Regions from separate parts of the Homo sapiens genome. Here region 2 is linked to region 1. A link means that fine-mapping ties the variant in region 1 to the expression of a gene that starts in the linked region. Tissue or cell type: whole blood. Region 1 holds a variant in brackets; the other region holds the start of a gene. All regions are shown on one strand. Distances are from middle to middle.

Region 1 (2,757 bases):
AGAATAGTCAACATTCCAACATGAATTTTAGGAAGAAAAGAAGACACTTAATAAACAACAGCTGTTATGAAGGAAGACTGTAAAGCAGTTGCCAGAACTCTGAGAGGAGATGGCCAGACAGCAAGAGCAGGCAGAAGAGAAATATATCTCAGAAATGAATAGAAGAAAAAAGACTAAACAAACCATGGCAGATAAGAAGCACAAGAAGGTAGATACCACCGTAGATGCCTATAGAACAGAAATGGAAAAAGTAAAGAAAAAAAGGAATGAAAAAGATACACAGTATTTGGGAGACAACAGTAGATATGGAAAGTAGGAAGAAAAGAACTTCATACTCACACTTGGAATTCCCAAAGAAGAAAGCTGAGCAATGGAACAGAGCAAATATTTTAAAATACAATTATGCAGGAGCTGGGCACAGTGGTGCATGCCTATAGTCCTAGCTACTCCAGAGGTTGAGGCAGGAGGATCACTTGAGCCCAGGAGTTCGAGGCCATAGTGTGCTATGTTCACACCTGTGAACAGCCACTGCACTCCTGCCTGGGCAACACAGGGAGACCTCATCTCTAAAAAAAAAAAAAAGACAAAAGATAAGTGTTGGTGAGAATGTGGAGAAAAGGGAACCCTTGTACACTATTAGTGGGAATGCAAATTGATATAGCCATTATGAAAAACACCATGGAAGGCCAGGCGTGGTGGCTCACATCTGTAATCTCAGCACTTTGGGAGGCCGAGACGGGCAGATCACGAGGTCAGGAGTTCAAGACCAGTCTGGCCAACATAGTGAAACCCCATCTCTACTAAAAAAAAAAAAAAAAATTAGCGGGTGTGGTGGTGTGTGCCTGTCATCCCGGCTACTCGGGAGGCTGAGGCAGGAGAATTGCGTGAACCCAGGAGGCAGAGGTTGCAGTGGGCTGAGATCGTGCCATTGCACTCCAGCCTGGGCAACAGTGCAAGACCTGGTCTAAAAAAAGAAAGAAGGAAAGAAAGAAAGAAAAACACTATGGGGATTCCTCAAAAAATTAAATATAGAGCTAACTTATGATCCAACAATCTGTCTTCTGGGTATATATGTATATGTATACATACACCACACATACACAGGTACA[TACAC/C]ACACACACACACACACACATATATATACACACACACATATATATACACACACATATATATACACACACATATATACACACACACACACATACATATATACTTTTTTTTTTTTTTTGAGATAGGATCTCACTCTGCCACTCAGGCTGGAGTGCAGTAGCGCAATCATGGCTCACTGCAGCCTTCAACTCCTGGGCTCAAGGGATCCTCCCACTTCAGCCTTCTTAAGTAGCTGGGACTACAGGCGTGCACCACCACACCTGGATACTTTTCCTATTTTTTGTAGAGATGGGGTATCACTGTCACCCAGTCTGATCTAAAACTCCCGAGCTCAAGCTATCCTCCCACCTCAGCCTCCCAAAGTGCTGGGATTACAGGCCTGAGCTACCACGCCCAGCCTTGAATTAGTATTCAAAGGGCAAACTGCACACCAGGCAACAATGAACCAGAGCCATAATCATTGAGACAAACTCTAGAAAAATTATTGTACTTTAAACTTAAAGAAAGAAAACAAGCCAGAAATATCATGTTGCTTATTAGAAATTCCTGCAGGAGTCTGGACACAGTGGCTCACACCCGTAATCCCAGTGCTGTGGGGAGGCTGAGGTGGGAGGATCACTTGAGCTCAGGAGTTTGACATCAGCCTGGACAACATAGTGAGACTCCACCTCTACAAAAAAAAATTTGTTTTAATTAGCTGAGCATGGTGGCACACACCTGTAATCCCAGCTACTTGGGAGGCTGAGGTAGGAGGATTGCTTGAGGCCAGGAGTTTGAGGCTGCAGGGAGCCATGATCAGGCCACTGCACTCCAATCTGGGTGACAGAGCCAGACCCTCCCTGTCTCTACAAAAAAAAATTCCAGTAGGGAGCTGGTGCAGCGGCTCACACCTGTAATCCCAGCCCTTTGTTAGGCCAAGGTGGGAGGACTGCTTGAGGCCAAGAGTTTGAGACCAGCCTGGGGAACATAGTGAGACCCCCATCTCAAAATAAATAATAAATTAAAATTAAAAATAAAAAAAGAAATTTCAGTGTGCATCAGACATGTAGGGTCTGCTCAACCTTCTGTGCCAGAAGGCAGTTGCAGCCACACCTAGAAGACACTGAAGCTGAAGAGGGAGCCACAAACCTCAAACCCAGCCAGGGATAAAGTCTAAAGGCTACAGACTAACAATACCAACCAAACATTTAAAAATCAGAATACTGTTCACATAAGCCCTTCTTTTTATAAAATTTTTATTTTAACTTTTTTACCGTTTTAAAAATAGAAAATGTCATACACAAAAATAGAATATAATGGGCCGGGCACGGTGGCTCCCGACTGTAATCCCAGCACTTCAGGAGGCTGAGGTGGGAGGATCACCTGAGGTCAGGAGTTCGAGACCAGTCTGGCCAACATAGTGAAACCCTGTCTGTACTAAAAATACAAAAATTAGCCAGGCATGGTGGCACATGCCTGCAATCCCAGCTACAGGCATGAGCTGAGACAGGAGGCTGAGACAGGAGAATCGCCTGAACCCAGGAGACGGAGGCTGCAGTGAGCCGACATCATGCCAGTGCACTCCAGCCTGGGCAACAGAGGAAGACTCTGTCTCAAAAAAATAAATAAATAAATAAATAAATATATATATATATATAAATAAAATG
Region 2 (2,500 bases), 530 kb before region 1:
CTACAGTAAAAACATGAACAAAACAGAAGAAAAAAGGAGGACACAAAGGCTTGAGATCAGGTTCCTAAAACAGGGTGTAGGTCTAAAACTGTCATCTGAAAAAGATGATGAGTTTAAAAAAAAAAAAAAAGAAAGAAGGAAAAACTAGTATCGGAAGCAAAGCCCGAGGAAGAAAATTCTAGATTCTGTTTTTTAAAACGTGCGCCCAATTGTGAAACTAGACGCCAGGGAAGGGGGAAGGGATGGGTTGGCGCTCGAAGGGGCAATTCAGTTTGGGAACGGGAGCGCAAAAATTGCGGGAGACCTCGTCTGTCCCCTTTCCTGTTGGATCCCCAACTCTACTAAAGCAGGCAGCGAGTACAAGGTGCTGAATTTACACCTGATGAATTAATAAATGAACATACGTGTAAGGGGAAAAAGAGATAGCCAAGTCTGTAATATCCCTCGACAGGGAGGACGTAGCCCGAGGGATGATGGCTTGGGAAAAGAGGAAAGAGAACTGGGGGGCATCGGAAAAGCCCAGGGTCTGGGGGAGGCGGGAGAGCATCCAGGGCGGGTGGGAGGACCGGGACAGCACACGGGCCGCCCGGGGGGTCACCTGCGACGTCCGGCGGCGGCAAGCCAGGGTGGTAGTGCTGCCACAGCCCCTGCAGGAAGGCGGCGCTGCTATCCATGCAGCGGTGCTTGGAACTGGTGATGAGCCGCAGGCGGCCGTAGTTCTCACGGCTGAAAAGGGCCGGGAAGAGCGAGGCCAGACGCAGCGCCAGCTGTCGCATATCCTGCCGTCCCTTCTCTACTAGCTGCCCGTCCATCCAGTCCGCGTACCACAAAGGCCAGTCGGCCAGCGCTGCACCCAGGTCGCGGCTGCCGGTACTACTAGCCCCGCCATCCCTGGACCCGCGGGCCTGCAGCAACCCGTGCAGCTGCCTCAGCTTGCGGATCTGTTTGACCGTGGGGTAGCGGGTGCCGTGGCGAATGAGGGCGACCAGCTGCACCGGGGTGCAGGTCCCCTCCAGCAGCTCAGGGTCCCGCCACGGAGCCTCGGGGCCCGACAATAGCACGGGGTTGACATCCTCGTAGCGAGTCTTGGTGCCGAAATAGGGGCTGAGCGACGAGGCCACCGGGTCCCTCGGCTCTAGAAGAGAGCAGCGCGCAAGCGACGAGAGCAGCGCCGCAGCCAGGGCCGCGGCAGGCGCTACGGAGGTCCGGAGGAGGCAGCCGGGCGCGCGTAGCATCGTCGGGACGGTCAGTGGAGTGCGCCGAGCCAGCTGCAGATGCCCAGCTTCCGGCTCCGGAGGGCAGGGGGCGGGTCTGGAGGGCGCTTCCGGCCGGCGGCCCTCGGGATGCGCTTCGCTGTTCTCTAGGAGGTACCAACCTCTGGCGGTGGGTCTTGCGTCCCGGCGGAAAGCTCCGAGGAGTCCTGTAGACTTGTGGCTCGGGTGGAGCCGGCGGAAAACCCCGAGAAGCTTGAGACAGCCGTGGCTGAGGTGGAGCCGGCGTCGCTGCCCTGGAGCGTGGGCGAGTTTCCTCTTAGCCGGAGCTTCAGGGATTGACTCAAAGACTCCTCCGCTTTTTTAGTTGTTTTGGGTGTGAATACAGCCCGGACTAAACCTTAGTCGCCTAGACTAAACCTTAGCCTCCCAGGCTGCCAAAACAGCACAGCTTTTACAGATGACTCTTACATCACCATCCCTACTCTGTGATACTGTGTTTTTCAAAGTTTAGTGCCTGAACCATCAGCATGAAATCTGCCTGAGACGGTTGTTGAAAATTCACATCGCTGGGCCTTGCGGCAGGATGCCTCTTGAAGCCCAAGGTTTTTGTTTCGTTTTTTTCCATTTGAGTTTGAAAATAAACAGGATACAGTAAAGCAGAGAACTTGGAAAGGGGCTTACATTCTGCAGGAATTTAAGTCCTGAATCTTTGGTATAATCTTGACCTGGACTACCAGAGCTAACGCCGACATCAGTGAGACAGCACCCTAAAAGTTCTGTGCTTGTTGTTCCCGAAGGCTTAGCGAGTAGAGACATAGCAATCTAGAGAATTTGGGTGCATTGAGTCATGGCCCAACAGATTTACTCTATTATTAAGTATGAGCTAATCTGCTTTGCGAAGCAAACATGCTCTGTATTTACCACCACTCCAGATCCATACGTTCCTCCCATGTACTTACTTACATACTCAAATCAAAAGCTGGGTTTTTTAATAGGTTATTGCTCAGAATCTTTGACCCCAAAAATCATAAGTCTGAACAATACCTTGTTTTTTCCCACTTGAACTCCAGTTTATTTGCCAGCTGGGGAAATAATAAGTATTACAGAAGTCGTACGGTGATCCAGATTTAAGGAAATTGGGACCACGTTTTCATTAAGTTAGCTTTTGCTTCAAAGACACTATTACATTGCTCTTTATAAGCCCATCACCATCTTTACTCCTTTTCTCTTTAAGTGTCTCCTTGGTTTAGAGAGGTGTTCCTCTAAGTTTAGGCGTGCCTCTAAAT

What was found. PIP is the estimated chance that this variant, and not a neighbour inherited with it, causes the effect.
Region 2: it holds the start of MINPP1, and the variant in region 1 is fine-mapped to the expression of MINPP1 in whole blood (INTERVAL, PIP above 0.99).

The regions. Positions count from the first base shown.
Region 1 is chr10:86,975,300-86,978,056 of GRCh38, reverse strand. The region is part of intron 1 of AGAP11 (ArfGAP with GTPase domain, ankyrin repeat and PH domain 11); the gene reads right to left. Among named protein-coding and RNA genes, the nearest start is that of ADIRF-AS1, 5.4 kb to the right of the region's middle. The variant TACAC/C (reference allele first, on the strand shown) is at 1,110.
Region 2 is chr10:87,503,651-87,506,150 of GRCh38, reverse strand. It overlaps MINPP1 (multiple inositol-polyphosphate phosphatase 1), which reads right to left and starts at 1,258. Exons shown (of 5, transcript NM_004897.5): 1 at 599-1,258. The coding sequence starts at 1,235. MIR4678 (microRNA 4678) reads right to left here and starts at 2,270; the gene lies at 2,197-2,270. LOC112268064 (a long non-coding RNA gene) reads left to right here and starts at 1,317. Exons shown (of 2, transcript XR_002957094.2): 1 at 1,317-1,816. RefSeq lists enhancers at 979-1,038, 1,199-1,288.